Regions from separate parts of the Homo sapiens genome. Here all the other regions are linked to region 1. Evidence: fine-mapped expression QTL. A gene starts in region 1. Each other region holds a variant in brackets. All regions are shown on one strand. Distances are from middle to middle. Region 1 holds the start of LASP1 (LIM and SH3 protein 1). Region 2 overlaps LASP1 (LIM and SH3 protein 1). Region 3 overlaps LASP1 (LIM and SH3 protein 1).

Region 1 (10,390 bases):
CGTTGGGGAGACAAAGGGAGAGAGACCCCTACTCCAGATGGCCAGGCCTGCACCCGGAGCCAAGCCCCTTGGAGAAGGAGGGTGGGGTGTACTGAGCAGGCAGGGGGCACAGGGCCAACACTGGACCCAGTGGTTCCAAAGACCCCTCCAGGCTGCCACGCGGAGGAAGCAGAGCCCCTCTTCTAGGGGATGGCACCTATTTCTATCAGTAGCTCCTTCCCACCTCCCTCACAGGCCCCACACTCTCATCCAGACACCCAAGGGTGGGGCAGAGGAGGGTGGTCGCCTGTCCCCCTGCAGGGGGCTCTGAGCAGAAACATGGAAACCAGTTACTATGAAGCACAAGTGTCAAGTGGAGCTGCAGCCACTGTCTCCCAGAGTGCTGGAAGGTCAGGAGAGGAGGCCGTTCCACCCCTAATGCTTGGCACCTCCAGCAGCTTCAGGCGACTCCCCTACCCTCTCTGGAGGAAGGCCCCAAGGTTCAAGAAAACCCACCAGCTCCTTCCACTGTGTCCTTTTTGGGGTAGGAAAATTGTGGGGAGGGGAGGCAGAAAATGGCCAGTCCCTCCACAACCGCTGTGAGCCAAGCCTGGACCCTAAGATGAAAGAACTCCTGCCTTGTCTCAATGGGGTCTGGGGAAGGACACTGTCAGGGAAATATGTCCAGAGGACCCCACAGTGACCCCGTCTGCCTCTGCCCTGCCCCATGGGCTCTGTCCCAGAGCAAGAGCCCCCCTCTTTTAAAGGCCCCAGGCAAGATGATTTCAGCGAAGCATTCCTGGGCCTCAGGACTCAAGGAAACTGCACCTCGAGGCATGCACCTCTGCCCCTTCCTGCTGCCTGCAAAGTCCATGGCTTCCCTGTTCACAGAAACCAGACAGACCCTACCTCTGCTGCCTGTTAGAGGCCTCTCAGCCTGGATCCGAGGCTCCAAGGCAGGGTCATCTTGATCTTCCCTTGCCTACCTGCAACCCACTCTAAAGAAAGGTAAACAGGCTGGTAGGGGCAGAAGCCTGCAAGGATACCCCTCACTTGGGACAGCCTGTCCCTCTGTGGCTCTGGGTTGGGGGGGATGTGGCAAGCTTCGTGTCACTGTGCCTGCAGCCTGGCACCTTGGCCTCTGAACCCAGGCTACCTGGGGTGGCCATGACTCAGGGATGGATTATGAGACCATCTCTTCCCTTCCTGTTGCCCAGGGTTACAGTTTCTCCCTCCTGCAGAGGCAATGCCAGCCCCACCCTGGCCGGGGCACCAGCCTAGCTTGGTTGGCCACCTGACCCGCTGGCTTAAAGGCATAGATCTTTGCTGCACCTCCACAAATTCCGAGGAGGACAGGATTATTCCCAGTGGCCCCACGCCCCCATACAAGACCCCAGGCCCAGAGCATTCCTCCAGATAGGGTCAGGAAGGGATGGGACCTACTTTTGGCACAAATGAGATGTAAATAAAATATAAATATGTATAAATAAAAGTACTTTCTGCAAACACACTGGCAGAAGAGCTGAGCAGAAAGAACTGTGGATGTGAATTTCAGCTCTAAGAGAGGGAGATGAGCCACATGGGCTACCTGAGCCTCCATTTATGGAGTGCATCGTTTACAAGAGCGAATACACCTACTTTGTGAGGCTGCTGTGAAGACTGAGCCCAGCATATCGTGATAACTAGTAGCTATTATGAAGGGATGGTCACAAGATGATGGTGGGGTACTCTAAGCTTCAGCTAGCAAAACGGGGCACCACAGCTGTGAGGACTTCAACCCCCTCGAGTGGGGAGGGAGCGCTGAGACAAGCAGAGGCAGAGAGCCCACCCTAACAGGGGATTCCAGGGGAACTGGCAGCAGACCAATCCTCTACCTCCACCTGTTTTCAGAAACCTGGGGAAGCAAGCCAGGAAAGAGGGACGTGGCGAGGTTCTTGACAACACAGCTCCCTAGATACAAAGCAGGTGCACAAAGTAGGTGCTCAATAAATATTTGTTGAATGAGCAAATGAGGTCACCCTGTTTCTCCCCCAGCTCTAATCCCAGAAGTCCTCTGGAGAAGCAAATCTCGACCTCCTTCCTCAAACACTGTCATCAGCAATACATATTTATCCAGCTTGCAAAGCATGCTGGGTACTGCAGGTTGGGGGCAGGGTGGCCTTCAGAGGTGACAAGGTTTTTACCCACCTATGCCTTTGGGAGATAAGGCTCAGGGAGGAGAAAAGGCTGAAACCAAGGACACACCCTGTGCTTTGGGCCACGTAGTGGGCTGAGTACCATGGGGGATTGTAGAGAAACGGGTGAGTCTAATTTGACTCTTTTGCTGTAAATGGGAGGCCTTGGGAAGTTGGTTAGCAACTATGGGACTGAAGCTGCCTATGGGACTGAAGGTTTCCCCTCCTCCCTGGTCACAGCCCAGCATCCTCCAGGCACTGGCTCCCCATTCCTGGTCCTATCCTTACTGCCTGGAGCAGGTGGAGAGGAATAGGTCTGATACCTGGATATTTCAGGTCTCCTGCTCAGTACAGGGGGCGAGGTCTCTCCAGGGCCACTTCCTATAGGGAGAGTTCTAAAAAGAGGAAGGAATCACCAACTCCCACTTCCCTGGGCAACCCCCACTTGAACGTCCTCTTCCAGCTAGGGTAAGAGAACTGGGGAGGGCACCCTGCCCATCCCTGCTCCCCTCCCCTCGGGTACACGGCACTGAAGGTCTTTCCAAGGGGAGTGGTGTGGAGCTGAACAGAGCATCCCAGAGAGGTAGGGAGGGCATAGTCTATACAGCACCCTCTTTAGCACTCAGGGACTTTAGTGCACTGCCCCACCTTTAAGGAAATGACATCATCATACCCATCTGACAGATGGTGAATACTGAGGCCTAGAGACATTCATAAAACTGGTGGGAGCAGACCTGGAACAAGGACCCAGTTTCCCAACTCCTGGAGTGGCAATCCTGCCTTCATGTTTTGCTTTTTCCTTATACGGGTCAAGTGCCCACTGCCTCTTCCCAATTCATGACTGTGGAGAAGAAGGGGACCACAGGGAACTCAAGATGCAGAGGCCAAAATCTCTGCCACGAGGGGCGGGCGAAACCCCAGTGTGCAAGGACAGGTACATTCTCAAGGGGAGACTTCATTATCTGATAGCTCTAAGCTCAAGTCCTGCCCAACAGCGGCTGGCATGGTCATGGGGAGATCAACAACTTTCCTCGTGCCCACAATATACCCCCTCCTCTCCTCCTGCCCAGTCAAGCCCAGGACCAGGAGGAACAGTGACACAGCAGCGGCCCCATATGCCCACACTCCCCAAGAGCAAGTTCAAATATCTTTCAGAACCTCCAACCCCACCTCCTCACGCTGACTCAGAGGCCAAAGGTCACTGAGGAAGCTCACACACCAAGGGGGAGGGGAGAGATAAGGTGTCCAATAAACTATCCTCTCCTGAACAAAACCTGGCTCCAGGTCAGTAATGAACTTGGCCCCAGGGCTCTATACCCCTCTTTCATCTAGTGTTCCCACCCTTGCACCTCTCTTCCATCCAGTCCTCCCAGCCCTCCCAGTTCAGATGGAAAGGACAGAATACTTGGACTTGGAGCCAGCTTTGGGTGGTGGATGAAAGACGCGGTGAGGAAGGGCACAAAATCACAGAGGCCTCCCCTCCAGACTGGGGAGGGGATGCAGAGGGGCAGGTTTTACCTTAGGATCTTACGGAGCTTACAAGAGAACAGGATCCTACCCTAAACTGTACGGGAAACACCCAGTTCTACTCTCCAACCCCCCTCCAAAAGTCTAATGGCAACCAGATGAACAAGTCCAGCATTGGGGAGACAGGGCCCCCAGGGGACACTGAATCTCCACAAGGCCACCCTCCCCTCCCCCCAATACCTCCCCCTTTCCTCGGCTTCCCCAGAACTCAGCCAACCCCACCCTCCATTGGAGAAACCTGCTTTGAAAAGTTAGCTCTTTGTTCTTCCACACGGTCTCCTGGCTCTGAGCACAATTTCAGGAGATCTCAGCTAAGCACCCTCCACCCACCCTACTCTGCCACCCAACCCCACCCGGCTCAGGCTGGACGGCCCAGCACCGGGAGTTGGCTTTTAATTGGAGGTGGGGGTTGGGAAGCTGTGGAGGAGGTCTGCGAGTCCTTTAACGACTGAATCCAAGGGGGTGCAGGTCGTTCAAAAACGGGGCTCTTGCGGCAGAGCCCGGGTCCTTACCCAAAACCCCCCGCATCAGATGCCACACACTCGCAGGCTGATAGCCCCCGCCCCGCCAGGCCAGGAAGCCAGGCCACCCCCGCCGGAGCGGACGGTTTTGCAGGGCCCCCCAGCCTCTGCCCCGCCCCCCCGCCCCCTCCACCAGCGCCCCGCGCTTCCGCCTACTTGGCGCTCGGCGCAGAGCGGAGAGGGAGCGGCCGTCTCTTCTCACTCTCCAGGCCGTAGGGGGCGGGACTGCACCCCTAACCTTCCCCCAACACACCCCGGCGCCTGACTTCCCTGCTCCTCTCCCGTCCTCCCAACCCCGGGACACAGAGCCCACCCCTCTCCAGCAGCGGCTGCCCGCTACGCGTGGACTTCCCGCCTCGCCCCAGATCTCCTGGTTTTCAGACTGGGATGTGTCCCCACACCCCATGACACCGCCCGCTCGCCCTCCCTCCATTCTCCTGGGATCGCGGGGATAAGGCGGCAAAGACCCGGCCCTTCTCTCCTCCCTGGATTCGGAGCACTGCGGGGGATTGCAAAGACGCGTCTCCCGGTCCCGGGCTCACCTTATCCAGACAGTTCACCTTCTCCGTGGGATACACGATCTTGCCGCACCGGGCGCAGTTGGGGTTCATGGTTCCGAGAAAAGCTGGGGCGGGGACGCCTGAGCTCACGCGCGTCCTGTTCCCCGAGGCGAGCTGGCGGGAGGCGGCCGCGGCTGCAACTACACAGGCAGCAGCGACGGCGGCTGGAGCTGGGGAACTGGCCTCCGCCTCCGCCCTCCTTCCCCTAATAAACACAGCGGGGAGGAGGGGCTGCACTGGGGCGGGCACGCGCCTCGGGCGCGGGCAAGGGCACGCGCAGCGAGGCGCGCTCTCCGGGCGACGTGGGGCTGCGCGGGGGCGGGTTCCTGGGGGGACGGCGGGGCCCGCGGTGCTGGCGCCTCAGCGCTCTCAGGCTGACTGCGCCCGGTGCCCAGGGCCCTTCCCCAGCCGGAGGCGGCGCAGAGGCGAGCAGGCTGCACATCTGGGGCGCCCGGGCTGCGGGAGGCGGGCTAACCCCTCAAGCCCGTCGAGGGTGGGGTTGGATCCTCCTGAACGCTGGAACTGATTCACCGCATTCGGGGACTTTCTACCCGGCATGAATCTGCGGACCGAACGGGGACCCCCTACCCTGCCCCTCTTAGCTCTCTTCCGGCCCACACCCTTTCCCACATTTGTGGGGCGGAACCCGTCCCTCCCTCTTGGACCCTGCGCGCTGCCGGGCCCGGGCTAGTGCTTCCCTCTCGAGCCCCTGCAGTGCACCTTCCCGGGGTTCCCCGGATGCGGGCACCGTCTGCGTTCAGCTTGACCCCTTTTTCTCCAGCATTCCTTTCTCCTTCTGTTACACCACTACTCACAGTGTAGCAGCTGCAACAATGCTTAGCACCCAAGGAGCCGCCTCCAGGCGCTGTAGAGGCGCGGGGGTATAGCTCAGTGGTAGAGCATTTGACTGCAGATCAAGAGGTCCCTGGTTCAAATCCGGGTGCCCCCTCAATGGCTTGGTTTTTCCTTCCCCTTGTTAACCATCTGTTTTTCATTCTTGACTCACATTTTAACATTGGGTCCTGACTAAAAAAAAAAAAAAAAAGAAAAGAAAAAGTATCTTCCTCATTTTTCAACCTTAGCAGAAATCTTTCGGTTTTACTTTGTGCTCAGCGGGAGGAGGGGGTGGGTATAAAAGCTGCGCGACCGCATTACTCGCGCCAGAGGTGTAGGGATTTCTGCGGCCACGGGCGCCAGCCTCAGATGGGTCAGACAGTTCGAGGTGCCGGGTTTGAGGGACAGGATGTTTCCAATGGGGGTAGGGAGACAGGGGAACGCCTCAACTTGGCGTTCCTTTTGGGGGTGGAGGGTGGGTCAGGCGAGGGAAACCCATAGACACAGCCCTTCTCCAACTTCAACTTTCTGTATTAATGGTGACATGGACGTGCTGTGTTCATCCTTGACTATTAATGTACAAAAGTAAAGTTATAACCCAGTGCAAACTGAGATAAACGAACACAGTGTTTCTCAAATTTGAACGTGCATCAGAATTACCTGCAGGGCTTGTTAAAACACTGCTAGTTTCTGATTCTGTAAGGGGGCCCCGAGAATTTGCATTTCTACCAAGTTTCCAGGTGCCTCTGGTGCTGCTGGTGTGGGGACCACATTTTAAGAACCACTGAAGTAAGAATAAAAGGCCATGGAGTTTCATAACCTAAAGATGGGGACAAGTATCTGCTGGCTGCGTGCCTGACAGGGTCACTGTTGGGCCGGAGGAAAATGGTAAGTGTGACGGGAGACAAGGGCGTCCCCCTCGACTAGGTTTTGCCCAAAAAAAGGAAAAATAAAGGAGAAAGGAAGAGGCGTGCTGCCTGGGTCAAAGGGCAGCTGCGATATTTTAAACCCGGAATGTGGTTGTGTCATTCCTCGGACCCCGGGGAAACGCGCATTTTTTTCTCCTGGCTCCTATTACTGTGAGCTGTATCTCTAGGCTGAACAGAGAGATCACAGATCAGCAGAGCTGCGGTTCCGTGCAAAACCCAGGAGGAACCAGTTTTACCTCTCCTTTAGGCCTTGAACTTTCCATGTATAGCTTATCAAGCCAAAGCCCTGCCTATGAGCTGAGTCAAGAAGGAAGAGGGGAAAATTGCTCGCTGTCTACCTTCTATCTGTGTGCCCTGTCCTGTTCGAGTTCGCGAGTATATGAAAACCTCTGAATTTGGATTACTTCTCCTAGTTTTCATAGTCAAGTACGAACTACTGCCCCGTCCAAGACATATTTTTTACCCCAAAACAAATTATAATTAACGTTAAACCAATGGGCATCGGAGATGGAAATCGATACGCGCCTTTGTTCTCCAACTGAGAGTACTGGTGCGCTTATCGCCACTTGGGGTATGAGGGCTCAGATCCACCTAAAGGCAGCCTCTGGTTGCTGTTCTCTCCCTCTAGGGTACGGGAATCCTTTCAAGGTGAAAATTAGGTAGGTGGAAGATACAAACGACACCTCCCGTGAGTTTTGCATTCAGAACTCGCTGACTCAGGTTATTCCTGGATGGCTGTGAAAAAAACTTAAAGAAACCCGAGGGGGCACCCGGATTTGAACCGGGGACCTCTTGATCTGCAGTCAAATGCTCTACCACTGAGCTATACCCCCTCTGGCGGTGGCTCTCTGGTAAATTGTTTTTACATCGATTGATCCCAAAATTTTCATACTTTCACCATTCGTTCAAAATTAGTGTCTCTTTGCTAGATTATACTGAAATTACCAATGAGGAAGGAGAAATTAAAAGACTAGGCCAAGATAGGCCGGGCACAGTGGCTCACGCCTGTAATCCCCAGCACTTTGGGAGGCCGCGTCGGGCGGATCACGAGGTCAGGAGTTCGAGACCAGACTGACCAAGATGGTGAAACCCACCCCCCCCCCCCCCACCTCCGTCTCTACTAAAAATACAAAAAATTAGCCGGTAGCGGTGGCGGGAGCCTGTAGTCCCAGCTACTCAGGAGGCTAAGACAGGAGAATTGCTGCAACCCAGAACCCAGGAGGCGGGGGTTGCAGTGAGCCGAGATCATGCCACTGTACTCCAGCCTGGGCGACACAGCGAGACTCCATCTAAAAAAAAAAAAAAGGCTAGGCCAAGACGTGGTGGCAGTTTGAAAAGCGTGTGAATTTAGGTGCCAATCTGCTTTGTCTAGGTTCAGTTCTTTTTTTTTTTTTTTCTCCAGACGGAGTCTTCCTCTGTAACCCAGGCTGGAGTGAGTGCAGTGGCGCAATCTCGGCCTCCCGGATTCAAGCGATTCTCCTGCCTCAGCCTCCCGAGTAGCTGGGATTACAGGCGCCCGCCACCGCGCCCAGCTAATTTTTGTATTTTTAGTAGAGATGAGTGTTCCACCATGTTGGCTAGGCTGGTCTCGAACTTCTGACTTCATGATCTGCCCGCCTTGGCCTCCCGAAGTGCTGGGATTACAGGCATGAGCCACCGCACCCCTGCTTGGTTCAATTTTTGTTTGTTTGTTTGTTTGTTTTCCATTTTGTGGAGATGGGGGCAGGTGGTGGGTGAAGGAGGCCGTCTCCCTATGTTGCCCAGAGACGGAATTTCGCTCTCCTTGATCAGTCGGGATTGCAATAGTGCGATCTCGGCTCACCGCAACCTGTGCCCCCCAGGTTCAAGCAATTCTCCTGCCTCAGCCTCCCGAGTAGCTGGGATTACAGGCATGCACCACCACGTCTGGCTAATTTTGTATTTTTAGTAGAGACGGGGTTTCTCCATGTTGGACAGGCTGGCCTTGAACTCCCGATCTCAGGTGATCTGCCCACCTTGGCCTTCCAAAGTGCTGGGATTACAGGCGTGAGCCACCACACTCGGCCTAGGCTCAATTCTTTATCCACAATCCCACTCATCTCTCCCCGCTAGCAAGTCAGAGAACAACCTCCTGCAAAACTGGATAAAGTTTTTCCTTGGTCTCTCCAAAAAGAATACGAACACGCCATTGCACTCCAGCCTGGGCAACAAGTTTCGCTCTCAACAAGAGCGAAACTCCGTTGCAAAAAAGAAAAAAAAAAAAAACTAAGTAAGAAAGAAATCCTGCAATATGCAATAACGTGGATGAACCTTGAGGATATTATGCTAAGTGAAGCAGGCCAGTTACAGAAGACCAAATACTGCATGATTCCACTTATATGAGGTTTCTAACATAGTCAGACTCCCAGAAGCAGAGAGTAGAACGATTGTTGCCAGGGGCTGGAGGGAGTTGCTGATCAATAGGTCTAAAATGTCAGTTCTGCAAGATGAAAAAACTCTAGAAATCGGCTGTACAACATTTTGCCTTCAATTAACAATACTGTATTGTATAGTTGAAAATCTAAGAGGGTCTGCCAGGCATGGTGTCTCATGCCCATAATCCCAGCACTTTTGGAGGCCAGGGCAAGAGGATCACTTGAGCCCAGGAGTTTGAAACCAGTTTGGGCGACATGGTGAGATTCCCATCTCTACAAAAAAAATTTAAAAATTAGCCAGGTATGGTGGTGTGTACCTGTAGTCCCAGCTACTTGGGAGGCTGAGGCAGGAGGATTGCTTGTGCCCAAGAGGTCAAGGCTGCAGTGAGCCAGGGTGACGGAGCAAGACTCTGTCTCAAGAAAAAAAGAGAGAGAGAGAAGCCAGTTGGGAATCTATTGTAATAATACGGGTCAGAGATGGTGGTGATGTCTTAGACTACAGTGTTTTATTAGTTTTATATTGCTGATATAACAAATTACAGTCTATTTGCATAAAACAACAGAAATTTATTATCTTCACAGTTCTGGAGGTCAGAATCCCAAAATCAATTTCACTGGGCTGGCTGGGCTCGGTGGCTCATGCCTGTAATCCCAACACTTTGGGAGGCCAAGGCAGGCAGATCACGAGGTCAGGAGTTCGAGACCAGCCTGGCCAATATGGTGACATCCCTTCTCTACCAAAAATAGAAAAATTAGCCAGGCATGGTGGCTCACGCCTGCAGTCCCAGCTACTCAGGAAATTGAGGCAGAAGAATCGCTTGAACCTAGGAGGCGGAGGTTGCAGTGAGCCGAGATGGTGCCACTGCACTCCAGCCTGGGTGACAGAGTAAGACTCCATCTTAAAAAAAAAAAAAAAAAAAAATCCACAGGGCTAGAATTAAAATGTTAGTATGACTGCATTCCTTCTGTAGGCTTTAGGGGAGAATCCGTTTCCTTGACTTTCCCAGCCTATAGAGGCCGCTACATTGCTGCCTCATTGCCTCTTCCCCAGTTGTCAAAGCCAGCAGCATATCATCCTGTCTCCGTCTAGCCTTGGTTTCCATGCTTCCATGTTACCATCTCCTCTCTCTGTGACTCTGATCCTCCTGCCTCCCTCTTGTAAGGACCTGTGGGATTACACTGAGCTCACCTGGATAATCCAGGATAACCTCACATCTCAAGATATTTAATTTAATCATATCTGTAAAGTTGCTTTTATCATGAGAGGTAACATAGTCACAAATAGATTCACAAGGAGACTGGGATGTAGACATGTTTGGAGCGTCATTATTTAGTCTATTACAAGTAGGAACAAGTAGAACAGCCGAGCTAGAGAAGAATGCAGGTGGCCAGGCACAATGGCTCACGCCTGTAATTCCAGCACTTTGGGAGGCCCAGGTGGGCAGATCACCTGAGGTCAGGAGTTCGAGACCA
Region 2 (10,390 bases), 22 kb before region 1:
ACAGAAGCCCTGCATCTCAAGCCCCTGGCCTCGGTTTCTTCATCTGTAAAAGAGTTGTGACAGAAATCAGGTATAATATGGGGAGGGGGCTTCTTATCACCAAGTCTGGGCACAAAGCCAGGCGGAGCTAGCACTAACGCAGGCTCAGTCTCCCACTTCTGAGTGATCTTGGGCCAACGACTTCACATCTCAAGACTCAGTTCCCACATCTGTAAAATGGGGACCATAACGCCAGTCACTCCAACCCACGATACAGACAGTGGCTCTAAAGCAGCAGCGCACTGTGGAGGGCCAGTGTGAAAGTGCTCTGTCAGCAATGAAGTGCTGAACGAGTGCCAGTCCCCCACTCCGTCCCCTGCTTCCTGGCTTTGCAAGGGTCAGGCCCCTAATCCAGGGGAATAATCGCCATGGCGACGCTGCAATGACATCAGCAGGTTCCCAGGATCGGGAACTGCTTCTGCCTCCCCCTCCCTGTTGGGGAAGGATCATTCATTTCACTGCTAACATAGGAGGCCCACAGAGGGTAGGGGTGAGGGGTAGGGGCTGAGAAGGGAGGGAGCCTGGGATCAGCACCACCTTGCTGTGTGTTTCTAAGCAAGTCAGTTCCCCTCTCTGGGTCCCCTGAAGGGAGCTGGCTAGCTGATCTCTAAAATCCCTCCCATTTGGAGTCTGTGACCATTTTAAAGCACCTTCAGACCCTGACTATGGATAATCAAGACAGGGAGGCTCTTTGAAAGGTCTTTGGGTATGGAAGGGGTGGCAGAAGTGAAGGGTGGGGGGCCAGGGGTGTAGGGAGGGCCCAGCCCAGAGCCCCTCTTCAGGGCTCCCTTCTTGCCCTGGCAGGAGTGCTTGCCCCTGTTGTCTAGGATGGCTCACCAGGGTGCTGTGGGGGTCCCTGTGGAGGAAGGGACCTGCCCAAGGTCACAACCCAGTTGTCGCTCAGGCCAGGATGCAACTCAGCGCTTCGGTCAGAGGACCCCACTTCTGGGAGATGCCTGGGCTCCCAGAGGACCCCACTCCTGGGAGATACCTGGGCTCCCATTTTGGAAACTCTGCTGTCAGGCCCAGGACTGACTGACATCTGAGGCTCCTGACACCCAAACAACCACCATCCGTGAAACTCTAATTTTTCTGTCAGTTCTTAGTTGTTCTCCCTGGATCTATCTTGCTTCTCATCCCAGCAGACAGGAGGTGCAGATCAACATTTGTTGGATCATGAATGAATTGAATGCAGACACGTAATCTCCAAACAAAGCAGCATAATTGGGAAAACAACTGCCTTGATGACCCAATATAAGAAGAAGGATCATTACTTAAAAACAAAAATTATGCCAGGCACGGTGGCTCACGCCTGTAATCCCACCACTTTGGGAGGCAGAGGTGGGTGGATCACCTGAGGTCAGGAGTTCATGACCAGCCTAACATGCTGAAACCCCATCTCTACTAAAAAAAATACAAAAAAAGTTAGCCGGGCGTGGTGGGCGTAATCCCAGCTACTTGGGAGGCTGAGGCAGGAGAATTCCTTGAACCTGGGAGCCGGAGGTTGCAGTGAGCTGAGATGGTGACACTGTACTCCAGGCTGGGCGACAGAGTAAAACTCCGTCTAAAAAAAAAACACAAAAATTAGGCTGGACTTAAAAAACAAAATGGCTCATGTCTGTAATCCCAGCAGTCTAGGAGGCCAAGACAGGTGGATCACTCGAGCCCAGGAGTTCGAGACCAGCCTGGGAACATAGTACCCCATCTCTATTTAAAAAAAAAAAAAATTAATAAAAATCTCTAAAAAAATACAAAATTTATTGAGCGAAATACAATTTCCACTATTATGTGCCTACCATGTGTTGGGCCAACATACTTTGTAACCCATCCCCTTCTAACAAAAAAGAAACACTAGTTTTTAAAATTTAGGCAGGGCGCGGTGGCTGACACCTGTAATCCCAGCACTTTGGGAGGCTGAGGTGGGCAGATCACTTGAGGTCAGGAGTTTGAAACAAGCCTGGGCAACATGACGAAACCCTGTCTCTACTAAAAATACAAAAATTAGCCGGGCATGGTGATGCACGCCTGTAGTCCCAGCTATTCAGGAGGTGGAGGCGAGAAAATCGCTTGAGTCTGGGAAGTCAAGGCTGCAATGAGCCAAGATCACGCCACTGCATTCCAGCCTGGGAGACAGAGAGAGACCCTGTCTCAAAAAAATACAAATTTAAAAAAAAAATTAGACACACACAGATGGAGAGGAGAGCTGATGGAAAGGGCCGGGGCTGGAAGTCATGGTCAAAAGGTTGCTGTGTGTATTTCCCAGCTTCTTCATGTCCAAGTTCCATTTCCTCTCCTTTCCGGGAGAACAGTAGTAGCAAACACTGAATGCTGACTCCACGTCAGGAATCTTTAAATGCTTAACATATCCTCCTATCTCACACCACCCTCTGGAGAGAGGTAATCCACATTATTCAGACGAAGGCACTGTGCACAGAGGTTAAGCAACTTGCCCAAGGTCACACAGCTGGTGGCAGCAGATGCGAGATTCAATCTCAGGCCAGCTAGTTCGGGTAAGAGTGATACTCTACCACCCGTGCTGCTTACAAGATCCGAGGAGGATAGAAACCCCCCTGTAATTTCCCATGACCCCATCAAGGTGAGTTGATGAAGGAAAAAATGGAAGAACAGTCTACTGGCACTTGGCACTTCTGCCTGGGCTCAGGGCCATACAGACACCTCCAGCTCAGTCCCACCCCAAAGCCACTGCCTCTGCTCAGCCTGGGGGTGGGATAGGAGCAGCAAGTGAGAAGGGGGGCTGGGGGTCCAGCTGCCAGCCCCCTGCCTCAGCCAGGCCTGGGCAGGACCACCGAGAGGGTCATTTCTGGACAGTTCTGTGGTTACCTCCTCCACAGGGGAGGCTCCAGGTGTCCCAGACACCCAAAGTGCCATTTTGGAGACCAATATAGAGATGGGAAAATAAATAAAGCTGAAATAGCCTGGGCAGCTTCCCAGAGACAGGGAAGGGCAAGGCAGGCCCAGAAGGGGCATGGAGAGAAGCCAGCTGACCCCGTGGGGTGAAGCTGGGTGAGCAGAAGAGGCTCCCCCTTCCCTTCCTGCTAGCCGCAGGCAGCTCTCTCCAGCTCTGCCCCCACGGCAGCCACAGGAACCAGAACCCGTCACTGCTCCAGCCTGGCCGGCTCAGCCCTTCCAAGCCTCAAAGCATCAGGCCCAGCCCCCAGCTTGAGGCAACTGGGTTTGCTGTCCTCATTTTACTGGTGAGGAAGCAAAGCTATGAGAGGAAAGACAGTCTGAGGCCAGTCTCAGACCACACAGCTGGTGGGCGGTGGGAAGGGAGACAGAACAGGCCTGCAAAAAGGGCAGTACCCTTTCCTCCCCTGCCTATCCTGCCCTCAGCCCCCAACCCCCGAGGACCCCCACCTCAGGGGAACAGAGCCGTGCCCTTAGTGCAAAGCCCTACCCTAATGTGGCACCCCTCAGAGCATACAAACAGGGTCGGTACACTCCTGCCCATGGACCCATCTCTAAGCTTCTTAAAGTGGGGCCAAAAGTCCTTATCAGAATCACGGGGGAGTCAAAATGCAGATTCTTGGGCCTCACCCAGAGCTGCCAAGCAGAAGTCCCTTGGGTGGGGCCTAGGAATCTGCATTCCAACAAGCCCATCCTACTTGCTGCTGACTGGTGCATCCTGCAGGGTGGGAGCACAGGGCTCGGTGCCTGTGCCATCAGCACTGTTCAGAGCAACGGGCTCCAGGGCCAGGTCATGGGACTTGATGTCTGCCCCTGTCCCTGGGCTCTGCACAAGCAGGGCAGCCTCTGTAAACCTCAGTTTCCCTATCTGTATGATGGGGATAATAAGAGCCCCTCTTTCATCAGGTGGCTGTAAGGATTAAACAAAGTCAGGCATACACGCATACATGCGTGCATGCTTGCACACACACACACACACATACACGCGTGCATGCGTGCACACGCACACACACACACATACACACACGGACACGCTCTGGCCCTCAGTGAGGCCCTAATGAAGAGTGACCGCCATTTTCATCTCCCAAGAGGCCCCCCCGGGAACCCAGCAGGCTATGACCCTGGGAAGCAGGGGGCACAGGCCAGGGACAGGAGCCCCCAAACCCAGAGCGTGGTGCTGGCTTCCCCTGTGGGGGGCAGAAGCAGCCCCTGCCAACAGCATGCCCTGCCCACTTGCTGCCCATCCTGGGCAGGGGGAACAACGTGGAGGTGCTTCCTCCTCAAACCCCACCCCTCGGGGATAGGGTGCCGGGGCAAAAAGAGCTGCAGCCACGCTTTTGTGGAACTGACAAAGGCTGAGGGGTTTGAATTTCTCCCCTGAGAAGGGTGTGTGTGTGTGTGTGTGTGTGTGTGTGTGTGTGTGTGTCTCCAAAGACCTGCTATCTGCTCCCAGCACCTCTTCTCCGAGGTCCTTCTGAGCCCCTCCACCTCTGGCCCCCATGGCCCTTCCACAGGGCAGGGAATTGAAGGCAGGAGTCAGGGCCTGGCTAGAATCTGTAAAATATGGCCAGGCAGGCTGTGGTGTTCCCTGCTTCCTAGTAACTTCAGCTTCTGTGCCGCAGGTGGGTGGGTGGCAGGTGTGAGCTGCTGCTCTCTTCCTCTGTGAGCCTCAGGCCCTACCAGGGCTGTGCAGCATCAAGGGCCCCAGACTTGGGAGTGACAAGACCAGGGCCCAAATCCTGGATCCGCATTCACTCACTCGGTTCCCCTATCTGTAAGACAGAGACGCTGGGTCTTTTACCTTCTCCCAGAACCCAGTCAAGGATAAACAGGGGAACTAACTAAAGGCACTTGCTGAACTACACAATTTCTTGCTTTTCCTTTTTTTAGAGACAGGGTCTCACCCCATCACCCAGGCTGGAGTGTAGTGGTGCGATCATGGCTCACTGCAGCCTCCAACTCCTCAGCTCAAGTGATACTCCCGCCTCAAACTCCCAAGTAGCTACGACCACAGGTGCACACCACCATCTCTGCTCGTTTTTTTTTTTAGGGACCAGGTATTGCTATGTTGCCCCAGCTGGTCTCGAACTCCTGGGCTCAAGTGATCCTCTTACCTTGGCCTCCCAGAGCACAGGGATTACAGGCGTGAGCCATGGCTCCCAGCCCTAAACTACAAAACTTCTCAACAGCATAAGGAACTATCATGTTTATTATTAAGGTAGAGACTGTTTCTTGGGGAGTGGATAGTCCCTGGGTTAGACAAACCTACATTCAAAGCTGCCAGTGTCTATTTCCTCTTCTCTGAAGTGAAGTGATGCTACAGCTGCACAGGGCTGGGTGAGGATTAAACGAGCTCACACGCCGGGAGCACTGAGCCCTCCATCGTCAGCTGTGAATATTATTATTGCCTCTCCTACCCGCAGGACCTCAGC[T/C]AGTCCCTCAAAGTCGCTGGGCCTCAGTCGCCTCATCTGTAACAATGGGGAAGATAGCACCTTCCTCACAGGGCTGCTGGGAGGATGCTGAGAGAGGGTGCATGGAAAGCCTGACAAAAGGCAGGGTCGGTTCTCCCTGATGGACCCGGGCAGTCACATCAAGATCAGGCAGCAGGAGTCCCCTCTGGAGGAACTGGGAGAGATCCCCTCTGTGGCCCGGGTGGAACCTCTGCAGTCTTCTCCCGATCCTGAGTGGGTCCTGGGCGCGCTGCCCACGTGGTAAATTCCCCTACATGTATTCTCGCGCCTAATCCTTCATCGGCTGAAGCCCCGCCCCACCCCACCCCACCTCATCACTGGCCAGGTTTGTCCCAGGAGCCCTCGCACCCCCAGGCAGGGTGGGTCAGCTGTTCTGTTCTCAGGACTCCAGACCCTTTGCTTATTCCTCCGTGTCCCCTAAAGACCAAGTTCTCCCTAGGCCTGGAACCCGTCCTCCCCTCCTACAGGGGCACATACCTCCCACTCAGCAGTGTTCTGGAAAGTCAAGCCAAAGGAGACAGAGGCGGAACAGCCCCCTATCCTGTGCCCCCATGGCAGGGCCCCCTTCACACCTTGCCCTTCAGTGGGTGGAGGTTTGGGACGCGGCTATAGAGGGTTGGTTGCCCAGCCTCAGACTGGCATGACCTGGAGGGGCAAATTCCCTGGTCCTCCCCAAACCCCTCCTTTGTGGGTGAGTGTGAATGGGGAAGAGGGAGGGGAGAGTGGCTTCCTGGAGGAGGTAGGCTTTAGGGAGCCCCAGAGCGGGCTCAAATAGACACCCACACCTCTCCAACCCCCTCTAGGTAGGAAGTGGGAGAACGCTCTACCCTGCTCCTTTGATAAAGTCAGGGGTGGGGTCAAGATTAAAGGCAATGCTAGGATTTCAGCACCTTGGCCTTGCAGAGTAACCGCAGGGGAAGGTACTCTTGCCAAATGCCGACCTTACAACTTCCCTCCCCAGCATCCCTCCCTGCCAGGCCCCAGCACCGCCCAGCCCCTCACCTGACTCTGGAGCTCACTCTGTTGCTTGAGGCGAAGGTTTTCCGGGGTGTCCGCCACCATGGTGAAGGACTGCTTGGGGTAGTGTCTGCAGGACAGAAAAAACAGAGTGGGGGTGACTCTGGGGGAGGGGCAGGAGCCTCTGGGCTTCTCACAGAGCATGCCCTCCTGGGAACTTCGTCCTATGCTTGGGCACGCCCTGGCCCGGCCCCACAGGAGGACTTCAGTGTCCACCACCAAGGCCGAGGGGAGACAAGCGTTTCTCAGACTCAGCTGGGACTGGCTGACCTGGGAAGACGCAGCAGGCATCAGTGATGGGCCAGCCAAGGAGAACTGTCCTGAGCGAAAGGATGGCCACTGGGCCACTCTCTGAGGGTTGAAGGTTACCCTTGTTTGGGGATAATCCATGCCTTGTGCCTACCACACATGGAGGTCGAGGCAACTGGGCCCGGCTGGGGGAAGATGGGCACAGGTGAGTCAGGACTAAGCTTTCAGCTAAGACCAGAAGTGGAGACCGACCATGCAGAGGAGAGCAAGGGGGAGACAGAAAAACAAAGGGACACACATATCCAGGGGGACTTCCTGGAGGAAGTGGTGAGAGAGAAAACACACGGTTAAAGTGGTATTTCAAACGGTTAACAAGGTCCAACCTAACTGGAGGGTAGGTGGGAAGGCCAGCTTGAGGACAAAAAAGGAGGTCACCTGAGGGTGACAGGTAAAATACAGGTTGAGTATCCCTTATTGGAAATGCTCAGGACCAGACGTGTTTCAGATTTTGGATTTTTTCTCAGATTTTAGAATATTTGAATATCCATACTGAGACATCTTGGGGATGGGACCATTTCCTATATACCTCATACACATGGCCTGAAGGTAATTTTATACAATATTTTAAATAATTTTATGCATGAAACAAAATTATTGACTGCTTTTTGACCTATGACCTATCACATGAGGCCAGGTGTGGAATTTTCCCTTGTGGCATCACGTCGGCACTCAAAGCTTTGCATCTTGGAGCTCTTCAGACTCTGGATTTTTGGATTAGGGCTGCTCAATCTATAGTAACAACAGTGAATTAGGCCGGGCGCAGTGGCTCATGCCTGTAATCCCAGCACTTTGGGAGGCCGAGGCGGGCAGATCACGAGGTCAGGAGTTCAAGACTAGCCTGGTCAATATGCTGAAACCCCGGTCTCCACTAAAAATACAAAAATTAGCCGGGTGTGATGGCGTGCGCCTATAGTCCCAGCTACTCAGGAGGCTGAGGCAGGAGAATCGCTTGAACTCAGGAGGCAGAGGTTGCACTGAGCCAAGATCCTGCCATTGCACTCCAGCCTATGTGACAGAGCCAGACTACGTCTCAAAAAGAAAAAACAAAACAAAACAAAAAAAAACAAACAGTGAATGTTCTCCCTGTGCTAAGGGCTTATGTGCCCTAGTTCACCGAATTCTCACAGCCACCTGTGTGACTGGTATTCAGCGTACCCCTTTGACAGATGGGAGAACTGAGGCCAGAGAGGTTAAACAACATGGCCAAGACACACAGGGATCCAGATTTGCGCCCAGACGATTTCTTCAGTTCATGCTGAACTTAGCCGCCAATTTCCAGGCCCAGCACAGCCTGGTCCCCAGGAAGAGGGCCTGGCTTGGAGGCAGCCGAAGCCACGGCAACCCTCAGAGCCTGCAGAGACCTCCAGAAGACTCTGGTCCAACTCCCTCATTTCAGAGGAGGAAACGGTGTGCTGGCACCAGGCACTTCTCCCTTAGCAGTCTTCATAATTAACTTATTTATCACATCAATGTATTGTCTTCTCTCTCCACTACTTCTCTATGAAGGGAGGGATTTTGGGGTCTCTTTTGTTCATTGATTTATCTCAAGTTCCTAGAATAGTAGGCGATGCTCAGTAAATATTTGTTGAATAAACAAATGTCAGGCTGGGCATGGTGGCTCACGCCTATAATCCCAACACTTTGGGAGGCCAAAGCAGGTGGATCACTTGAGGCCAGGAGTTCGAGACCAGCCTGGCTAACATGGCGAAATCCTGTTTCTATTAAAAATACAAAAATTAGCCGGGCACCGTGGCGCATAGCTGTAATCCCAGCTACTCAGGAGGCTGAGGCAGGAGAATCACTTGAACCTGGGAGGTGGAGCTTGCAGTGAGCCAAGATCCGCCACTGTACTCTAGTCTGGGCGAGAGCAAGACTCTATCTCAAAAAAAAAAAAAAGTCACGCCAGGAATTGAAGCTGGTGCAGGACTAGAACTCAGCCCTTCTCCATCCCTCTCTCATCACAAGGTCCCCTAGCAAACCAGCTGCAGGAGAGACAGGCAGCTCTGAGCCATGTGGTTTGTGTGTATGTGCTGCTATGAGAAATGTCTGGGGGTCTGCATGGGCCCCAATTACTTCAGGGACTGGTGGGTGGCTTCTCCAAGCCGGAGCCCGTCAGGCCATTTTTAGCCCTGGGTGACCACAGCCCACCACAGCTATGACCCCTGCAGATCCCTGACTCACAGGCTGCACCCAGGTAAGCCATAGATGGCCTCCTGGGACCTCTTCCTAGGCACGTTCCACCCAAAACTGACACACTCGAGAGCTAAGAACGAGCTGCCCCTCTGCTCGGCATGTTCTCCTGCCGCCCACATGGCCGTGCATCAGAGCTACCTGTAAACAGGCGACTTCCCCTGAGGCCACCACTTGTGAAGGGCAGGGCTCAGGATTTGGAGACCTCAATCAAAGGAGCATAACTTGACAGGGCCCAGTGCAGGGCTCTGGCCCTGCCACTGACTTACTGGGTGACCTTGGCAAATCCTTTTTCCCTTGGGCCAGTTTCACTGTCCCGGATCCAGATGATCCTAGCGGTGCCCGTCCCCCAGCCCTCACCTGGGTCCTGGCCACCCAGGTCAGCCCAGACTCGCAGTTCCTCCAGCAGAGGAAGGGAAGATGAGGAAAGGCAAACACAGGTGTCCGCAGCTGGCAACAGACGTGGCCTGTGATGAATACGTGGCCAAGTCTGGGGTCGTCCCCGTGCAGCCAGGGCCACCCACAGCTGAGGAGCTCCCTTCAAAGTTCCTGTACAATTCCAGGCCAAGGGATGATCAACCACGAGTCTGTTCCTAGAGACCAGAAAGGGAAGATCTCTAGCAGGGCTGGCAGGCCCTGAGGCCCTAAGAGGGAGCGCTTCAGAGACGAGACGACCCTCCTCCCAACATCAGAGCCATTCTGCAGACTGTATGGGCAGGGGCTGTGGTGAGGCAAGCACATGGAAGTAGAGGCACATGTGGCAAAAGCAGGGTGGGGGAGAGGAGACCTCCGGGCAGCTCTGGCCCAGCACTCGAAGACTCAATTCTGAGAAGATGAGGCTGGTTAGCATTTGATGGGGAGGGCTAGAGGCAAGCAGGGCAAACACATCCTCCAGACCCGGTCTGCAAAACCCTGGGGTTTCTCATTGGCCAGAATGCACAGGGTTAAAACAGGCCAGGCTGGGTGCAGTGGCTCACGCCTGTAATCCCAGCAGTTTGGGAGGCCAAGGAGGGCAGATTTCTTGAGCCAGGAGTTTGAGACCAGCCTGAGCTACAGAGCGAGAGCCTGTTTTTATTAAATAAATAAATAAAACAGAGGCCAGCTCCAGTGCCCAAAGACCGCCAGACAGGTGCACCTGACGTGCCCCACCCATTCCACAGTCTGAAGTTCCTACACACACTGCACTGTGCCTCACACACGATGAATATATAGATGTGCCCTCTGCACCGATGGGCGCCTCCAAGACACCCAGGCAGCAGCTGCATTGAGGCCATGTCCACACACCCCCTGCACCCCACACTGTGTCCCTCTGCTCACCCTACACCCACCAGACGGTCTCGGGAGCCCCTCCAACATGCAGCAGGCACCTTGGGTGGGGTTGGCAGGTACTTCATCCTCTTCAGAAGCACCCTTCCCCCTAGTCTCAGCCCCCGACA
Region 3 (10,390 bases), 38 kb before region 1:
GCTCCTTCTCGGGTCAGGTTCCAAAAATGAGCAGAGAGGCCCAAAGAAGTCATATCCCTCAGGACCACCCCACTAGGCGGGCATGTGAGGCTCCAAGCCTTCAAGTCAGTCTCTTGCCCCCACAGTGCTCTACTGGCTACAGAGTCCCCCACCTTGACCACCACCACCCAGGAGTCTTGAGTTGGGCCTCATGTTGTTTGAGGGCTGTGACTGTGCCTGCCTGGGGCTGGCTGCATTAGCCATCAAGGTCAGGAGGGCAGGGGAGGCAGGTGCCCACCAAGCCAAGCTGGGGAGGGGAGGGAAGCTGCACTCTGCCCAGACCCCTTGGGTGCTATGGTGGAGGACTTGGCCAGTTTGGGGGAACCAGAGCCCCTGCTACCTCCATCAGAGACCTAAGCAGGGTCAGCCAGAGGAAGCCCCACCTCCACTACCAGAAAGAAACCTCAGGGTCAACTGGCCCATTTGTGTCCAGAGCCTCGGCGCCAGCTCAGTCCTCTTAGCCAACTGAGTTAGAGAGAAATGGTCGTTCATTCACCTTGTCTTCTTCAGGCTGAGTCCCATGGTGGGACGAGAACACCGGCCTCGGTGTTCCCTGCTAGATCCAGATCCTGATTGGCCCCAGGCTTCCTCCACCTCCCATCCCCCATGGCACCTTCTCCAGACACAAGCCCTTTCCTCCTCTCAGGTCTGAAAACTGTCCAGATGGCCTTCTGGGGCTGTGCCAGACTCCCAAAGACAGGCCTGCCAAGGTCTCCTGGATCTCAGCCCAAGAGCCAGACCCTGGAGAATCACGGGTGACTCCTTGTGCTTGCGGCACCCTGACCCTGTGGCAACCAGATCCTGCGGCACCCTGGCCCAGCGGCACCCTGGCCCTACCCTGACCCTGTGGCACCCTGGCCCTACTCTGACCCTATGGCACCCTGGCCCTACCCTGACCCTGTGGCACCCTGGCCCTGTGGCAATCTGACCCTGCGGCACCCTTGCTCCCTCTCTCCTTCCTCCAGCCGCTCCATGCGGCGTAAGGCCCACACTTTCACATCTCATGTGCCTGGATCCAGCTGCTCTAGCCCCACCTGGGCCAGCCCAGAACCGGCCCCTGGGCCCATATGGGACAGGGGAAAAGTCAAGGTCCCTATTCCCAGGCACGCATATATCAGGTGGGTTTTGAGGCCTGATATATGTAGTTCTTGAGGCAGCAAGAACTACACCACAAGAAAGGCGGGTGGTGAGGCCGAGCACGGTGGATCACGCCTGTAATCCCAGAACTTTGGGAGGCCAAGGTGGGTGGGTCACTTGAGGTCAGGAGTTCGAGACCAGCCTGGCCAACTTGGTGAAACCCTGTCTCTACTAAAACTACAAAAATTAGCTGGGTGTGGTGACGGGCGCCTATAATCCCAGCTACGCGGGAGGCTGAGGCAAAAGGATAGCTTGAACCTGGGAGGCAGAGGTTGCGGTGAGCCAAGATCATGCCACTATACTCCAGCCTGGGTGACAGAGTGAGACTCCGTGACTCTGTCTCAAAATGAAAAAAAAAAGACAAGTCATAAAGCCTCACATACATATCTCATTGCCTCAAATGGGAAAAGACCTCCAGGTGAGCCTATTTATGGGGGAGGGAGCCAGCCCTGGCCAGACTGACCACGCCCAACCCCACTAGGAAGGGCACCAGGGCACTCCCAGACACGGGGCCCATGCCCTGTTCTCAGATCCCTAAGACAAGGCCAGAAGTGACTCTCCCAGCCCACTCCCTCAGCAGCACCCTGTCCCCTGGCTGGGGTGGTGGGGGAAGACAAGGGAAGGAGATACCAGCCAGCAGCCCTAGTTGATACACTTCATGCATATCAGCTCGCCGAATCCTCCCCACAAGTCTCTGAGGTAGTCAATGTCATATCCCGATATCCAGAGAGGCTAAGGGACCTGCCCAAGGTCATCTGGACACATGGTGGTAGGGAGGGAAGGGATTAAGGTCAACCTGGAGGCAGCCCACCCTCGCCACTCAAGGGCAGTCCAGGCTTCTCTCATCCTTCAAGGTCCATCTCGGCACCTCATCCTCGGGACGCTGGCCCTGGCTCCAGGCTGAACCCAGGGCTTCCATAGCACCTGGGACTGGGCTGTGCTGTTGGCGGGTGGTGTCCCCCACCCCCACTGGATGGAAGCTCCTGGAAGGTAGTGAAGGAGCCAGTTATTCTGATGCAGGGGTCTCCCACAGCACTGCACACCCCAGGCCTCAGGACTGGCTGAAGAGAACAGACCAGGATCCTGGAGACCCTTGAGCTTTGCTTCTTAACATGTGGTCTCCTGGCCGGGCGCGGTGACTCACGCCTGTAATCCCAGCACTTTGGGAGGCTGAGGCTGGTGGATCACCTGAGGTCAGGAGTTTGAGACCAGCCTGGCCAACATGGTGAAATGCCGTCTCTACTGAAAATACAAAAATTAGCTGGGCATGATGGCAGGCACCTGTGATCCCAGCTACTCGGAAGGCTGAGGCACGAGAATTGCTTGAACCTTGGAGGCGGAGGTCGCAGTGAGCCAAGATCACGCCATTGCACTGCATCCTGGGCAACAGACTGAGACTCTGTTTAAAAAAAAGTGGACTCCAGACTACCTGTGTCTGACTCAACTGGGCTCCTTGTTAGAATGCGGGTTCTGGGGCCTTCCAGAAAATCTACAAAATCAGGGCTGGGGTTCTGGAATATGCATTTTGGAAAAAAGCTCTCCAGGTAAGTCTGAAGCAGGCTTCAAGTCTGAGAACGGGTGGTCTAGAGCAGAAGCTGGGAATCTATGGTCCATGGACCAAATCCAGCCCACAGCCGGCTGCTAAGAACGGGTTCCACATTCTTTAATGCTTGGCAGGGGGCGGTGGAGGGGGGGAAGAAGAACCAAAAGAGGAATAATATTTCATGACACATGAAATTTCTCTGAAATTCAAATTTCAGCCTCCAGAAATAAAGTTTTATTGGAACACAGCCACACCCACTCAATTACCTCTTATCTGTGGCTGCTTTCATGGCAGAACTGCAGAACTGAGCTGCTGCCACAGAGGCCATATGGCCACAAAGCCTGAGATACCTCCTACCTGGCCCTTTACAGAAAAAACTTAGTGACCCTTGTTTGCCAAAATATTC[T/C]GACGGCATACTCCTATTGGTTAAATGTATTTTAGCACAATCTTCCTGAATTATGTGTATTTTATAAGTTACATGGAAGTTATCACTTGACAAATATAGAATGTATATTGTAAAACTTGCACCAAAGAATGAATTGTGAAAGTATGAGATGGCCAGGTGCGGTGGCTCACACCTTTAATCCCAGCACTTTGGGAGGTCGAGGTTGGCAGATTGCTTGAAGTCAGGAGTTCAAGACTAGCCTGGCCAACACAGTGAAACCCTGTCTCTACTGAAAATACAAAACTTAATCAGGCATGGTGGTGGGCACCTGTAATCCCAGCTACTTGGGAAGCCGAGTCATGAGAATCACTTGAACCCAGGAGACGGAGATTGCAGTGAGCTGAGATCGAGCCACTGTACTCCAGCCTGGGAGACAGAGTGAGTCCATCTCAAAACAAATGAATGAATGAATGAATGAATGAATGAATGAGATGAAAAAGAACCAGAACCAGGAGTTAGAGTTTTCTTCCTGTAGGAACATGCTGCCTGTCCCACACCTTGATGACCCCTAGTGGGCTCTATCCTCTTCACTTTTCTTTCTTTTTTTTTTTTGAGATGGAGTCTCGCTCTGTCGCCCAGGCTGGAGTGCAGTGACACAGTCTCGGCTTACTGCACCCTCTGCCTCCCGGGTTCAAGTGATGCTCCTGCCTCAGCCTCCTGAGTAGCTGGGATTATAGGCAACTGCCACCACGCCCGGCTAATTTTTGTATTTTTAGTAGAGACAGGCTTTTACCATGTTGGCCAGGCTGGTCTTGAACTTCTTGACCTTGTGATCTGCCCACCTCGGCCTCCCAAAGTGCTGGGATTACAGCCGTGAGCCACCGTGCCCAGCCTCCTCTTCACTTTCCAGAGAGGAAACTGGTGGGGACGGGTACAACCATAGAAAGGTGTGAGGGTTCAGGGTTTGAGTGCTCCATGAGGATGGGGGAGGAAGCGGGACATAGAGTGAAGAGAGTGACAGCTCTCCCCCACCCTCAGGGGAAACTCAGAAAGCAGGACACCAGGACAAGGAGAGAAACTGGTCCTTCCCAGACGGGCTCAGGCCTGCAGGAATTTCCTCCAGGCCCTGGCAGGCACCTAGCTGGAAGCCAACTTCACTTCCTGTTCCCTAGAATGCTGGCCTGCCTTTTCCTGATCCGGGAAAATGGGGTGGGAGTAGTGGGGTGGGAAGAGGAGGAGAGGCAAAACCTGCTGTTTCCTGGAACGCCCCTGCCCCATCAGGGCTGTCCCAGCCTGGGCAGTCCCCTTTGGGCATCCCCTCCGCACAACGTCTCTGCTGCCTCCTCTCCCCCTTGGCACTGGCTGTGCACAAAAGGCAAGAGCAAGCACGTGGCCAGGCAGGGCTTACACGTTAACAGCTGGAAACACCTGCATGGTTGCTGCTCCTGCTGGCTGAACAGCCAATAGTTCCTGCAGCCCGGGCTGGGGGCACAGGGAGGGCAGTGGTAAGGGCCTGGACAGAGTCTGGGGGGAGTCCAGTCTGGACGCAGAGGGCAGTTTACTTAGGGGTTTGGGTCAGGATCAGTCCCTCCTTTCCCGGCCCCCTCCCTTCAGGCCAGAGCAAGGACCGGCACCCACGTGGCAGCACAGGCTAAGCCTGTTCCTGAGGTGAGGCAGCCAACCCTGGCCAGGCTGAAAATCCAACCGACCCCAGCATCCGCTGGGAGGGGCACTCCAGGTGATGTTCTCACAGACCCAGCGCAGAAGGTGAGTCTCCCGAGCCCCACTCTCTTAGTGATCCCTGTCCACTGGTGTTGGTGGCGGGGAGGGCACAAGGGAAGGGGACACCCCTCCTGAGGCCTCCAGGCTCACGAGGCACCTGCCCTTCCAACTTTTGTTCTGAGGTGGGAAAGGTCAGCTTCCCTTGTTTCCTTTCTGCTAAGGAAAAGAGCCTGCCCCTGAGAACCTGTGACCAGGGAGGGAAGTGCAGACACGGAATGGACAGGGGCCTGCCCTGGGCCCCGAAGGTGCCAGCAGGGGGCCTGCAGGGACAGGTGTCCTTGATGTTGGGGGCCCAGATGAATGTGTGACAGCTTCCCTGGACATGACGCTATCTGCATTAGCGATGGGGTGACAGGGAGCCTTTTCCTCTGGGAGGAGAGCAGGTCTGGACCCCACAGGCTCAGTCCCTTATGATGGGCTGCACTGTCACCAGACCAATGCCTCATCCTTAGGGGAGCCGTATGCTTACCTACATGACCTTGGGAGTCACTTTCCCCTCTGGGTCTCAGTTTCCTCATCTGTAAATAAGGCCATGGTACCATCTGCTCCCAGGCGGTCCTGCAAACCCTGACCAGCTCTAGGAACCTGAGCAAACTCTAAGCTGAAAGCAAGTATGGACACATGGGTATTCCCATAAAGGGCTGGGGAAACTGATCTTGCTTCTTAAAAAGTCATTACACATGGATAAGTGTATCTAAAGTTACGGCTGGCTGACCCGACGGCTGGAGGAGTAGCTGCCTGAACCCAGGACACCCTTCCTGGGTGGCTCTATCAATGTTAACAACCTCTGCAGCTGTACAGCTCTTCACACAGCTTGACCAAGCTCTTCATACCCTGACAATCATTGCCCTAAAAAATGGGCCGGACACGCACACTTTCATTCCCATCTTCCAGAAGAGGAACATGAGGCTCAGAAATTAAATGACTTCCCGAGGCAGAGCTTTCATTGCTCAGTAACAGCCAAGGCTGGTGACACAAGGACAAAATCACAGCTAGACAGGCCCTTTCCTGAGAACAGGTGTGGAGCAGGGTGACCACACGCCCAAGTCCCAGTTCATGTCTGCTGCTCAGGGATAAATTTCAATGCACCCCTTTTCACTCTCAACAAGAATGATAATCAGAAAGTCACCCTAACTCGAGAGAGAGGGACACCAGGCATGCAACTCAGGACAGGCGGCACAGAGCGGCTAAATGGGCTGAGAAAAAGTGAGGCTCAGCTCCTTCCAGCCTGGGCCCACTTGGATAAAATTTCCAAACCCTCAGCTTCCTCTCCTTCCCCTCGCCAGCAAATGAGGAAATTGTGTTATTACTTTCCTGACCCACCTACTGGTTTGTTAAGCAAATAGGCACATGAGGGGGATGTTAGCACATTCAGAAGGCAAGGAAACATTTCCCAGCTTCCAAGGGCCTGGCTCATCCCTGCTCCAAGCTCTGCAAAGTTCTGGCCTTCAGAGAGCCCTGAGTGAGGAGCGCCCTAAGCCCAGACATGTCAGCACAGCCCCCAGCCTGGAAGCTGTCCTGGGCCTCTGTGGACACAGGCCACACTCTACCTGTGCCCATGAGGTCCAAGTACATGTGGGTTCAGGGGTCCAGGCCTAAGGACCCTCCCGACTCAGCCAGGACCCTACTAGCTGGGACTCCAGGATGACAAGTTAGGGTCCATGACAAAGCTCTGCTAGCTGATGTTCTGTTTTCTGACCCCCCTGCTCTCCCAACTGTGGTGGAAAATAAAAGTCTGACTCTCCATACGGTGCTCCTCACATGATTATACATCACAGTGAACGAGGGAACAGCAGGCTCTGGGTGGAATCATCAGCTCACCAGCTAGGGTCTTTTTTTGGGTGCCCTTACATGCATTACTCATTTCCTTTTCTTTTTTAACTTTATTTATTTATTTATTTATTTATTTTGAGACAGTCTTGCTCTGTCGCCCAGGATGGAGTGCAGTGGTGCGATCTCAGCTCACTGCAACCTCCACCTTCCAAGTTCAACCAATTCTCCTGCTTCTGTCTCCCAAGTAGCTGAGACTACAGGGGTGCACCACCATGCCCAGCTATTTTTTTCTATTTTTAGTGGACGCGGGGGTTTGCCATGTTGGTCAGGCTGATCTCAAACTCCTGGCCTCAAATCATCCACCTGCCTCAGCCTGCCAAAGTGCTGGGATTACAGGCCTGAGCCACCGCGCCTGGCCTCATTTCCTTTCCTCAGCCAGCCCGAGAATACTGCCATTTTACAGATAGGGAAACCAAGGCTCAAGATGTGGGCAAACAGTGGGTTAAGTCAGAATCCAGTTCTAACATCAGAGCCTCAGTTCTCAACCACCATGCAATACTGCTCCCCATCAGAGACTCACAATATTTTATTTATTTATTTTTTAGAGACAGGGTCTCGCTCTGTCACCAAGGCTGGAGTGCGGTGGCGTGATCATGGCTCACTGCAGCCTCAAACTCCTGGGCTCAAGCAATCTTACCACCTCAGCCGCTCGAGTAGCTGGGACTACAGGTGGATGCCACCATGCACGGCTAATTTTCTTTCTTTTTTTTGTAGAGATGGTATCTTGCTATGTTGCCCAGGCAAGTCTTAAACTCCTGGCCTCAAGCAATCCTCCCACCACAGCCTCCCAAACTGTTAGGATACAGGCGTGAGCCCACCATGCCCCAGTATTTTATTTTTAAAACAAACAAAAGTCTGTACTCAACTTCATTAGTAATCACAGAAATGCAATCTAAAACCATCGGCTATCACACTCTACACGATCAAAATGCTAAAGTGAACATATCTGAGCACATGGAGCAAATGAAACTCATCTCTGCTGGTGGGAGGGTAAATCAGTGCAGCCACTTGGAAAATAGTTCCGCATTATCTCGTAAAGTTGAAGGAGCACACTTTTTTTTTTTTTTTTTTTTGAGATGGAGTCTCACTCTGTCGCCCAGGCTGGAATGCAGTGGTGCGATCTCAACTCACTGCATCCTCTGCCTCCCAGGTTCAGTGATTCTCCTGCCTCAGCCTCCAGAGCAGCTGGGATTGCGCCACCGAGTGCGCCACCACACCCGGCTAATTTTTTGTATTTTTAGTTGAGACGGGGTTTCACTGTGTTAGCCAGGATGGTCTTGATCTCTTGACCTCATGATCCACCCACTTCGGTCTCCCAAAGTGCTGGGATTACAGGTGTGAACCACCACGGCCCGGCCCAAGGAGCACACATTCTAAGATGCAGCAGTTCCAATGTACATAGACCTCAGGAGATATGTACAAAAATGTCCATAGCAACTGGAAACAGTACAAATGTCCACCAGCAACAGAATCAATAAAATGTGGTATAAACAAACAATGGAATACTATATAGCAATGAAAAAGGATGTACTACCGCTACACACAAACATATGGATGAATCTTTAAACCCAATGGTGTGTAAGAGAAGCAAGATACACAAAATTACTCTGTGTTCAAAATCAGGAAAAGCAAAACTATAGTGTTTAAGAATACATAATTACATACTAAAATTATAATGAAAAATACATGCTTTCAAAATCAAACTAGAGGATTGTCCAACAAACCTGCCTTCAGAGTATTTTACTCTGGGGACAAAACTTTGTTTGACTATTTACTATTGATTAGGCCCAGACTCTAAAGACTGAAGCTCATTACAGAGTATAAAATGCTCATTATTTCTGGCCAACTGAGATGCAAAGCATTTCTGCCTGCAGCAAAGATATCTTCAAAGTTTATGGTTTTATTTTCCTGTAGGACAATAGCCAATGTGTAACTAATGGTAGGCCCTTAACCATTTCTGTAGCTAAATGTATCCAGTACTCTCTTTTTTCCTTTTTTTTTTTTTATTTTTGAGACGGAGTCTTGCTCTGTTGCCCAGGCTGGAGTGCAGTGGTGTAGTCTCAGCTCACTGCAACCTCCACTTCCCGGGTTCAAGCAATTGTCCTGCCTCAGCTTCCCAAGTAACTGGGACTACAGGTGTGCACCACCACACCTGGCTAATTTTTGTATTTTTAGTAGAGACAGGGTTTCACCATGCTGGCCAGGCTGGTCTTGAACTCCAGACCTCAGGTGATCTGCCCGCTTCGGCCTCCCAAAGTGCTGGGGTTACAGATATGAGCCACCTCGCCCGGCCCCAGCACTTTCTTTCACAGACTAGCATTTACCTCTGCCTCTCATATTCCCCAGTTTTAATCTCTAGCTGGTTCCCTCATAATTAAATAAAGATATGATAAGTACTTACTACATGGGAGTTATATTTTTAACACTGTGAACACTGGGCTCTTGACAGGCATACAGTAATACAATGTATGGTATACCTGCCTGGTGAAACAGGTGTTTATTGTATATGTTACTATGTGTCATATTTCACACATAAAAAAAGTTTTAAGGACACAAAATTGTATACAGAAAATCAATATGTAAGTAAATAAAAGAAGAGGCTCCAGTAAAGTGACTAAAGTTTTCCATACTTGAACACTGCTAGAGCTCATGACAAAAGGCCAGGATTCCTAACATGTAACCTTTATCCCATAGCATGGACCCATCAAAAGGCAACTCTTCAAATGCCTTTAATGATGACACAACTACTCACCATAGATGTGTAATATACTGGCCCCTTTCCTCACTTCCACACATTCTCAGTACTAGACAATGGCCAAACTTTTCTGCCAAACTTCACTTTATGACCCTTCTCCGGCAACAGTGTAGAAAGCAGACAAGTGTGCCTTTAAAGTATTGATAACATTGACAACATAACTGGGTGTGATGGCGTGTGCCTGTAATCCCAGCAACCTGGGAGTCTTAGGCCAGGGTTCACTTAAACCCAGGAGTTCAAGGCTGCAGTGAGCTGTGATCACGTGACTACACTCCAGCCTGGGCAGCATAGCAAGACCCTCTCTCTACAAAAAAAATAACAATTAGCTGGGCATGGTGCTATATGCCTGTAGTACCAGCTACTCAGGAGGTTGACGGGAGAGGACCACTTGTGCCCAAGAGTTCGAGGCTGCAGTGACCTATGATCGTGCCACTGTACTCCAGCCTGGGCAATCTTGTCTCAAAAATAATAATGATGATAATAAGAGTGATATCATTTATCCCATGCCAAGCACTTGGCATGTTCCTTGCAACCACCTGTCAAAGTAGGGCCTACTGTCCCATTTTTACAAATGAGGAAACTGAGGCTCAAAGAGCCCTGCCTGGCCCCAGAATGACAGAAGCTAGGATCTGGGCCCTTACCATCTCTTCCTACCTCACTGTCTCACCACTTAGCAAGACTGAAGACAGACTGCACTTATCCAAAGCAGACACCCCAGAGGAGATCAGACACTTGTTTTTAAAATGCTCTGGCTGGTAAAAAGCCCTAGTCTGCAGCATATCCCTCCAAGGAAGCATATCCTCATTCTTTTGTAAGATGGCCTGACCTTTAGAAATAACTGGAGTCAGCTGGGCACAGTGGCTCACACCTGTAATCCCAGCACCTTGGGAGGCCAAGGCAGGTGGATCACCTGAGG

Evidence for each region. PIP is the estimated chance that this variant, and not a neighbour inherited with it, causes the effect.
Region 2: its variant is fine-mapped to the expression of LASP1 in whole blood (TOPMed, PIP 0.98).
Region 3: its variant is fine-mapped to the expression of LASP1 in whole blood (INTERVAL, PIP above 0.99).

What each region holds. Positions count from the first base shown.
Region 1 is chr17:38,864,612-38,875,001 of GRCh38, reverse strand. LASP1 (LIM and SH3 protein 1) reads right to left here and starts at 4,944. Exons shown (of 7, transcript NM_006148.4): 1 at 4,744-4,944. The coding sequence starts at 4,812. TRC-GCA2-2 (tRNA-Cys (anticodon GCA) 2-2) reads right to left here and starts at 7,357; the gene lies at 7,286-7,357. It overlaps TRC-GCA4-1 (tRNA-Cys (anticodon GCA) 4-1), which reads left to right and starts at 5,639; the gene lies at 5,639-5,710. RefSeq lists enhancers at 3,081-3,682, 4,695-4,844, 6,335-6,514, 6,090-6,690, 6,691-7,293, silencers at 4,285-4,384, 4,905-5,214, 6,635-6,734 and a cis regulatory region at 6,952-7,565.
Region 2 is chr17:38,886,555-38,896,944 of GRCh38, reverse strand. It overlaps LASP1 (LIM and SH3 protein 1), which reads right to left. Exons shown (of 7, transcript NM_006148.4): 3 at 6,441-6,525. Among named protein-coding and RNA genes, the nearest start is that of LASP1, 22 kb to the right of the region's middle. RefSeq lists enhancers at 1-341, 342-863, 864-1,385, 3,472-4,045. The variant T/C (reference allele first, on the strand shown) is at 5,400.
Region 3 is chr17:38,902,933-38,913,322 of GRCh38, reverse strand. All of the region lies in intron 4 of LASP1 (LIM and SH3 protein 1), which reads right to left. Among named protein-coding and RNA genes, the nearest start is that of MIR6779, 6.9 kb to the left of the region's middle. RefSeq lists an enhancer at 452-1,411. The variant T/C (reference allele first, on the strand shown) is at 3,126.